2 separate regions of the Homo sapiens genome follow, and region 2 is linked to region 1. Evidence: fine-mapped expression QTL. A gene starts in region 1. The other region holds a variant in brackets. All regions are shown on one strand. Distances are between the middles of the regions.

Evidence for each region. PIP is the estimated chance that this variant, and not a neighbour inherited with it, causes the effect.
Region 2: its variant is fine-mapped to the expression of RCN3 in whole blood (TOPMed, PIP above 0.99).

The regions. Positions count from the first base shown.
Region 1 is chr19:49,525,304-49,529,812 of GRCh38, reverse strand. It overlaps RCN3 (reticulocalbin 3), which reads right to left and starts at 1,810. Exons shown (of 7, transcript NM_020650.3): 1 at 1,755-1,810; 2 at 1,099-1,346. The coding sequence starts at 1,340. FCGRT (Fc gamma receptor and transporter) reads right to left here. Exons shown (of 7, transcript NM_001136019.3): 6 at 4,240-4,356; 7 at 3,385-3,803. The coding sequence ends at 3,694. RefSeq lists a silencer at 1,733-1,852 and an enhancer at 1,316-1,894.
Region 2 is chr19:49,453,204-49,457,428 of GRCh38, reverse strand. It overlaps ALDH16A1 (aldehyde dehydrogenase 16 family member A1), which reads right to left and starts at 4,204. Exons shown (of 17, transcript NM_153329.4): 1 at 4,008-4,204. The coding sequence starts at 4,097. RefSeq lists an enhancer at 2,652-3,611. The variant G/A (reference allele first, on the strand shown) is at 2,355.

The sequences.
Region 1 (4,509 bases):
TGCACTCCAGCCTGGGTGACAGAGCGAGACTCCATCTCAATAAGTAAATAAATAAATAAATAAATAAATAAAAATTGCAACTCCCCCCCACCAACAACCTCTCCCCTCCACACTTTCTGACTCTCTTGCTTTATCTTTCTTGGATGCATTTATCTCTATTTGATCCACTTTCTACTTATTGACTTCTTGCTGTTTCCCTCACCACAGTGTAAACTTCAGGAGGACAGATGTGTTAGCTGTTGTGACTTCAGCACCTAGAGCAGTGCCTGGCACATAGCAGGTGCTCGATAAACCTTTGCAGGCTCAATCAGTGTCAGGAGGATGCACAGAAGAAGGCGGCTGCTCCCATCGCGCCCCCCTGCGCTCAGGCCTGGACGGAGAGGGTGGACAGGGCTCCATTCCACCCAGCTCACCCTGAAACTCAGGGCTCTGCCACTCTCCTGCACTGGCCGGGCTCCTTAAAGGCCAAACCTCATTTTCCACACCAGTCCCTGCCATTTACAGAGCAGGAAACTGAGGCTTGGGGAGGGGAGATGTCTGGGACAAAAGAATAAGGAGCGCTTAGGGGGCAGAATCTAACCCAGATTTTGCTGCCCTCAAAGGTCCTCTTTTTTATTGTTGTTGTTGTTTTTTAGACGGAGTCTCACTTTGTCGCCCTGACTGGAGGGCAGTGGTGCAATTTTGGCTCACTGCAACCTCCACCTCCCAGGTTCAAGCGATTCTCCTGCCTCAGCCTCCCGAGTAGCTGGGATTACAGGTGCCCACCACCACGCCTGCCTAATTTTGTATTTTTAGTAGAGACGGGATTTCACCATGTTGGCCAGGCTGTTCTCGAACTCCTGACCTCAAGTGATCGGCCTGCCTTGGCCTCCCAAAGTGCTGGGATTACAGGCATGAGCCACCACGCCCGGTCTCAAAGGTCCTCTTTAGGCCTCAATTTTAACTTAATTTCTTTTTCCCAAGGATAGAAGGTAGAATTTCATTTCTCACAAAGAAATGAAGTTCAGTCCACGCCATTTCTCTGACCCCTGTCGATACCCCCGCGTCTCTCTCCTAAGCCCCACCTCTGGACACGCCCCAACCGAATGTCTCTCTTACCCCAGACGGGCCTGGCTTTCCTCTGGGGTGAGTTGGTCGAATTCCTTGGCCACTTCCCGTCCCAGGAAAGCCTCATGGTCGTACTGGAAGTTCCCGTGGGCGTCATCATGGGGAGCGTCGCTCAGGGGGGCCGCCTGGTGCACCCTCCCCTGGCCATGAGGGCCTGCGTCTGGGGATGGCTTCCCCTGGGCCCCGTGCCTCAGTAGCAACAGAAGCAGCAGAACTGATGGTCGCCACATCATCGGTCCCTGGGGAGTGGCAAAGGCCAGGGGTCAGGGGTCACAGGGATGGGGACAGACACGGGATAGGAGAATGGCGGGGTGGAGGGGTTACCTAGGACAGGACAGGGAGTTGGAAGTTGGCTGCAAGCTTTCGGGCTCAAAAAGGGCGGGCGATGGGGGAAAAGAGGGCGGGATGCTTAGAGGTAAAGCCACCTATGGGGAGGACCGAATCTTCTGACGGAGTCTCAGGGGGGTCCCAGACCTGCCAGGGGGAATTACAGAGACAGACGTGGCGCACATCCCACGCAAGGTGCAGGGCATAGTTGTGGCCAGCGAGAGGTCAGGCAGGCTCCCCGTCATTGCTCCCAGTCCGGACCCTGGTCCTCGACCCGAGCCGCCCTCCCTGGACAGAGGCCCCCCACCCACTCCCTTTACCCTGTTATCCAGCTTCGCTCCGCTCTCCACGCTCCGCTCTGCGTTCCCGCAAATGTGCCCAATTCGGCCGCTCTCCAGTCAGGCCCCGCCTCTGGCAGCGCAGAGCCCCGCCCCCCGCCCAATGAGCTCGCACGAGCGTCTCACGGGGCGGGGCCAATGAGTGCACGGGGTGCCGCGGGCACTCCTCGCCACGTCCACAAAGGAAACCGCGGCCTGCCCGGGGAAGAAGGGTGGGCGACACCGCAGTGACGCGGCCGGGGAGAACTACAACTCCTGGCAGTCGTCGCGGCACTCTGCCGTCCACCTCCAGCTGTTCTAGTCACAACGCCTCACGGGAAATGTATTTTTCCCTTTCCCTTTGTCAGGATGGTTTAAGAAAGAGGTGTACGTTCCAACACTTCTATACCAAACAAAACAAAACAAAACAAAAATAAACAAAAAGAACGAAAGAAAAGAAAAAAGGCCGGGCGCGGTGGCTCACGCCTGTAATCCCAGAACTTTGGGAGGCCGAGGCGGGCGGATCGCCTGAGGTCGGGAGTTCGAGACCAGCCTGATCAACACGGAGAAACCCCATCTCTACTAAACATACAAAATTAGCCGGGTGTGGTGGCGCATGTCTTTAATCCCAGCTACTTTGGGAGGCTGAGGCAGGAGAATTGCTTGAACCTGGGAGGCGGAGGTTGTGGTGAGCCGAGATCGCACCATTGCATTCCAGCCTGGGCAACAAGAGCGAAACTCCGTCTCAAAAAAAAAAAGAAAGAAAAGAAAAGAAAAGAAAAGGGAGAGCAGAATCAAGGGGCCGGAGGAAATATCCCATTTCCTCCAAGAGTGAACACTGCTCCTCGCTCCTCTTCGGCTCCAAGGATTCAGGTGGTCAGACAGTAGCCAAGAATTCCTCAAAATGCCTGGCATGGCAGTCATCCAGTAAATATTTGTAAAAGTTATGAATTAAAAATACATGACCTCAGGTTGAGCACAGTAGCTCAATGCCTGTAATCCCAGAACTTTGGGAAGCTGAGGCAGGTGGATCACCTGAGGTCAGGAGTTCCAGACCAGCCTGACCAACATGGTGAAACCCCGTCTCTACTAAATACAAAAAATTAGCCGGGTGTGGTGGTGCATGCCTGTAATCCCAGCTACTTGGGAGGCAGGAGAATTGCTTGAACCTGGGAGGCGGAGGTTGCAGTGAGCTGAGATCACGCAATTGTACTCCAGTCTGAGCAACAAGAGCAAAACTCTGTCTTAAAAAAAAAAAAAAAAAGTGACCTTAGGCCGGGCGCGGTGGCTCACACTTGTAATCCCACCCCTTTGGGAGGCAGAGGCGGGTGGATCATGAGGTCAGGAGATCGAGACCATCCTGGCTAACATGGTGAAACCCCGTCTGTACTAAAAATACAAAAAATTAGCCAGGCATGGTGGCAGGCGCCTGTAGTCCCAGCTACTCGGGAGCCTGAGGCAGGAGAATGGCGTGAACCCAGGGAGGCGGAGCTTACAGTGAGCCGAGATCGCGCCACAGGACTCCGGACTGAGCAACAGAGCAAGACTCCGTCTAAAAAAAAAGAAAAAAGAAAAAGAAAAAGAAAATACATGACCTGATGTATAAAACTGGCAGGTTCCCCTGTGGCAGCATGTTACCTGTAGGAGAGATCCGAGGCCCAGCCGCCATTCAGTCCCCCGACTTATTCCCTTACCTCCCCTGCCTGAAAAATGATGAGAACACACTGATTCGGGCCCAAACTCGTGTTATATTATCGAGGTGGAAAACAGCCATATGTATTAGGAGGGGAAACTGAGGCAGACCACAGGACGGGGCTCCAGAGGGAGGACAACTAGGCCCAGAACCCCTTCTGGAGGCTCAGAGATGCCAGTGTTCCAGGAGGTCTCACAGCATGAAAGGGGCCTGACTACATTCGCTTTTAGCAGTCGGAATGGCGGATGGTCAGGCGGTGGCTGGAATCACATTTACATCCTTCAAATCAGCATCCTGGGCCTCCCCTGGGGTGGGCAGGAGGACCCCGGTGTCGTCTCCACGAAGGGAGATCCAAGGGGCTGAGGAGAGAGAGAGAGGGAGAGGTCATCAGAATCTCTGAGGCGCTCTGGGTCTGACTGGCGTCCCCCATTTGTGTGTGTGTCTCACACACTCTTCCTCAGTCTCTATCCCCTTCCTTCTGGGCCTTTGTCTCCCCTTCTCCCAATTTTCCGTCCCCCCTCTTTCTACATCTTTGCCTCCCTCCTCTGGGTCTGTCTCCCCCTCCCTCTGTCCGCACCTCTCTCTGTCCCCTCTGGGTCTCTGTTCCCCCGTCTCTGGGTCTCTGTCTCCGTCCCCCTCTCTCTGCACCTCTGTTCTCCCATCTCTGGGTTTCTGTCTCCACCTCTCTCTGATCTCTGTCCCCCCTCTCTGGGTCTCTGTCCTCCCAGGTCTGTGTGCCCCTCTCTTGGGGTCTCTGTCCCTCTCTCAGAGGCTCTTCCTCCCGCTGCCCCCCACCTGGCAGCCCACTCCTCATCCTTCTCCACAACAGAGCTCCTCCTACAGCCGCTGCCGTGAGTAGCAAGACACCGATGACGATTCCCACCACGAGCACGGAGGACTTGGCTGGAGATTCTGCAGCCAGAGAACGCTGTGAGATGTGGAGCAGCCCCTCCACCCCACCCAGTCAGGACACAGAACTGGGGCGCTCCCAGTCCCTCCCAGCCTCGGAGATTCCAGCACCAAGTGTCTGATGGGCAGAGGCGAGGCCAGGCAGGCGATCTGGGC
Region 2 (4,225 bases), 72 kb after region 1:
CTACATGCGCCTGCCACCACGCCTGGCTAATTTTTTTGTATTTTTAGTAGAGATGGGGTTTCACTGTGTTAGCCAGGATGGTCTTGATCTCCTGACCTCGTGATCCGCCCGCCTCGGCCTCCCAAAGTGCTGAGATTACAGGCGTGAGCCACTGCGCCCGGACTTCTCCTCCATATTTCTTTCTCATCCTGGTCACGTCTTCCCTGATGCTAAATCCAAAGCACACTGCTCACTTGCTCCTTCTACAGACTCCCCTAGCATCTCTGATGTCACATATTCCTGATTTTTCTCTTACTGGCCCTTCTTTCTTTTTTTTTTTTGAGATGGAGTCTTGCTCTTGTCTCCCAGGCTGGAGTGCAATGGTGCGATCTCAGCTCACTGCAACCTCCGCCTCCTGGGTTCACGTGATTCTCCTACCTCAGCCTCCCAAGTAGCTGGGATTACAGGCGGCCGCCACCATGCCCAGCTAATTTATATATTTCTAGTAGAGATGGGTTTTTACCATGTTGGCCAGGCTGGTCTCGAACTCCTGGCCTCAGGTGATCCACTCGCCTCGGCCTCCCAAAGTGCTGGGATTACAAGCATGAGCCACTGTGCCTGGCTTCTCCTTTCTCTTTAAAGCAAAAAAGTTACTTAGAAGTTCCAAACTCAAACGCCCACAGGGAGAGAGACATCTGTGAGAAAGTCAGGGATATTTGAACATGAACTGGGCATCAGATGACATTAAAGAATGATTGTTGGCCGGGCATGGTAGCTCACATCTGTAATCCCTGCACTTTCCCACGCTGAGACGGGAGGATTGCTTGAGCTGAGGAGTTTGAGACTAGTCTGGACCTACACAGCAAGACCCCATCTCTACAAAAATAAAAGTAAAAAATTTGCCAGTCATGATGATGCACACTTGTAGTCTCAGCTAGTCAGGAGGCTGGGGTGGGAGGATTGCTTGGGTCCAGGAGTTTCAGGCTGCAGTGAGCTATGAACGCTACTGAATGCTAGCCTGGGCGACAGAGTAAGATCCTGTCTCAAACAAACAAACAAAAAACAAAAAGAATGACTTAATGTTAAGTGTGGTAACAGACCATGGTAGTTTTGTAACAAAATGAGCCCTTATCTGTTAGAAGAAAGGATTCAAATATTTATAGGAAAATACTGTGACATCCAGGATTTGTTTAAATTACTCCAAAGAAAATACAGAAGGAAACAGCGCTGGGATAAATGTTGATGATGGTTGAGGCACAGTGATGGGTAAACAGGAGTTCAAAATAAATGCTAATTATTCTGTGCAAGTTGGAAAGCTTCCCCCCAAAAGAAAAACAAAATTCCAAAAGAATGTCCAGAGGGTTCCAGGAGGCCTGAGAAGAGGGCCTGGATGAGAAGAGGAGCTTAACGATTCATGGAAAAGACAGGAGCTATTGGTCCCAGATGACTTTTGTCAGGGAAGTTGAGCCAAATGTTGACACATTTTGGAATTTTATTTTCAAGAGGACCTCCCGGATGTTTACATGGAATCAATTGTCCAGCATTTCACATAAAAAAAAAATAAAGTTCACGCCAAAGAAAACATGTTTGTTGGTTGAGTCTGGCCCAGAGACTGTACGGTTGAGAACTTTGCTGGTGTAGGCAAGACCACGGGTCTGAAATGCAAGGACTCAAGTCCAAGTCTCAACTTCACTTTTTATGTTTTATTTTTATATTAATAGAGATAGGGCCTCACCATGTTGCCCAGGCTGGTCTCAAACTCCTAGGTGCGAGTGATCCTCCTGCCTCGGTCTCCCAAACTGCTGGGATTACAGGTGTGAGCCACTTGCCTGGCCTCAACTTCTTTTTTTTTCAGGGGGGACAGGGTCTTATTCTGTCACCCAGGCTGGAGTTCAGTGGTATGATCACTGCACCTCCCAGGCTCAGGTGATCCTCCCACCTCAGCCTCCCGGGTAGCTGGGACTACAGGTGTGTGCTGCCATCCTCGGCTAATCTTTTGTTTTCTGTTTCCTTTTTTTTTTTTTTTTTTTTTTGAGATGGAGTTTTGCTCTTGTTGCCCAGGCTGGAGTGCAGTGGCGTGGTCTCGGCTCACTGCAATCTCCACCTCCTGGGTTCAAGCGATTCTCCTGCCCCAGCCTCCCAAGTAGCTGGGATTACAGGTGCCTGCCACCACGCCCAGCTAATTTTTTGTATTTTTAGTAGAGATGGGTTTCACCATCTTGGCCAGGCTGGTCTCGATCTCCTGACCTCATGATCCGCCCGCCTCGGCCTCCCAAAGCGCTGGGATTACAGGTGTGAACCACTGCGCCCAGCCATTTTTGTATTTTTTTTGGAGACAGCGTCTTGCTCCGTTGCCCAGGCTGGAGTGCAGTGGT[G/A]CAATCTCAGCTTACTGCAACCTCTGCCTCCTGGATTCAAGCAATTCTCCCACCTCAGCCTCCCAAGTAGCTAGGATTACAGGCAAACACCACCACGCTCAGGTAATTTTTGTATTTTAGTAGAGATGGGGTTTCACCATGTTGGCCAGGCTGGTCTCGAACTCCTGACCTCAGGTGATCCGCCCACCTAGGACTCCCAAAGTGCTGGGATTACAAGTCTGAGCCACCACGCCTGGCCCAATGTTTTGTATTTTAGTAGAGACGAGGTTTCACTATGTTGCCCAGGCTGGTCTCGAATTCCTGAGCTCAGGCGATCTGCCCGTCTTGGCCTCCCCAAGTTCTAGGCTGTGCCAGGGTTCTGATCCAGTTCCTTCCACTTGGATCATTGCTCTGGCCTCCTGCCCTCCCCCTCAAAGAAGCCTAAGCTCCTTTCGCCTGGGTGCTGGGGGACCCTGGGGGATCATGAGAGCCCCGTGAAGGAATTCTGAGAGTGCCTGGGGAAACGACAGAAAGTTTGAGGTGCCCTACTCATTTGCAGGAACCCCACGAGGGTTCTGGGGGCCTCTGAGGGGTCATGGGAGTCCTAGGGAGGTTCTGAGGACCCCCAGGGGATCATGGGACCCTCACGAGGACTTCAGGGGTTCCTGAACAATCATGGGAACCCTATGGGACATTCTGAGAGCTAGAGAGATCATAGGAGCCCCGTGAGGGTATTGTGAGGGGCCATAAGTAATTACAGGAAGTCCTGATGTGGCTGGGTGCAGTAGCTCACGCCTGTAATCCCAGCACTTTGGGAAGTCGAGGTGGGTGGATCACTTGAGGCCAGGAGTTCGAGACCAGCCTGGCCAACATGCTGAAACCTTGTCTCTAGAAAAAGTACAAATATTAGCTGAGAGTGGTGGCGCGCGTCTCTGGTCCCAGTTACTTGGGGGGCTGAGGTGAGAGGATGGCTTGAGCCCAGGAGGTTGAGGCTGCAGTGGTGTGATAGCGCCAGTGCACTTCAGTTTGGGCGACAGAGTGAGACCCTGGCTCAAAAAAAAAAACAAAAAAAAAACCCAACCCAAACCGGAAGTCCTGATGTATTCTAGGCTCCTGAGAGTTCCGATGAGGTCACATGAACCCCACGAGTATTGAGGGGTCCTATGGGATCACGGGGGCTCCATGGAAGTTCTGAAGGTCTCTGGGTAATCAAAGGGATGAAGGGAGTCCCTCAGGAGGTCTGGGGTGCTCTGGAGGCCCATGGAAGCCATAGGATGTTTTGAAGAGTCGTGGAAAGACAATGGGGGTTGTGGGTCACTGGAGCCTCACAGGAATCCTAAGGGGTCTGGTGGGTGGCGTCAGGTTCTGAGGGGACCCTGAGGAATCACGAGAGCGTCTAGAGGAGTTCAGGAAAACCGCGGAAACACTACGAGGAGTTCAGGATCAAGGGGCAAGAGAACCAGTGGGGAAGACCGGAACAGACTAAAAGGCTGCCACCGCCAAGGCTCAAGGGAGCGTCCTACAGGGCGCGATCCTATTGGGCGGCGGGAATCACGGGGACTAAGAGAGGCGGAGCGGCTGAGCTACCGCAGTGGATGACGGGACTCCCCGCGAAAAACCGGGCGCCCAGGCCTGGGGAACGCAGCGAGCAGCGCCGGCCGGGCAGACTCTCACCAGTGCGCATGCGTGGCTCTCCGGCACCGGTCCGTACTCCAGCGAGGTGAAGATCTCGCGGGCGCGGGGCCCTGCACGCGTCGCAGCCATCGCCTACCCCGAACGCTTTCCGCGAAGACTGCGGGGCGCTCTGTGTTAAGGGGAACCTTGAGGTCCGAAGAGCGACACCTCCGGTTCCAGCCCAAAGGGGCGGGGCTAATGGGAATGGGGTGGGGCTA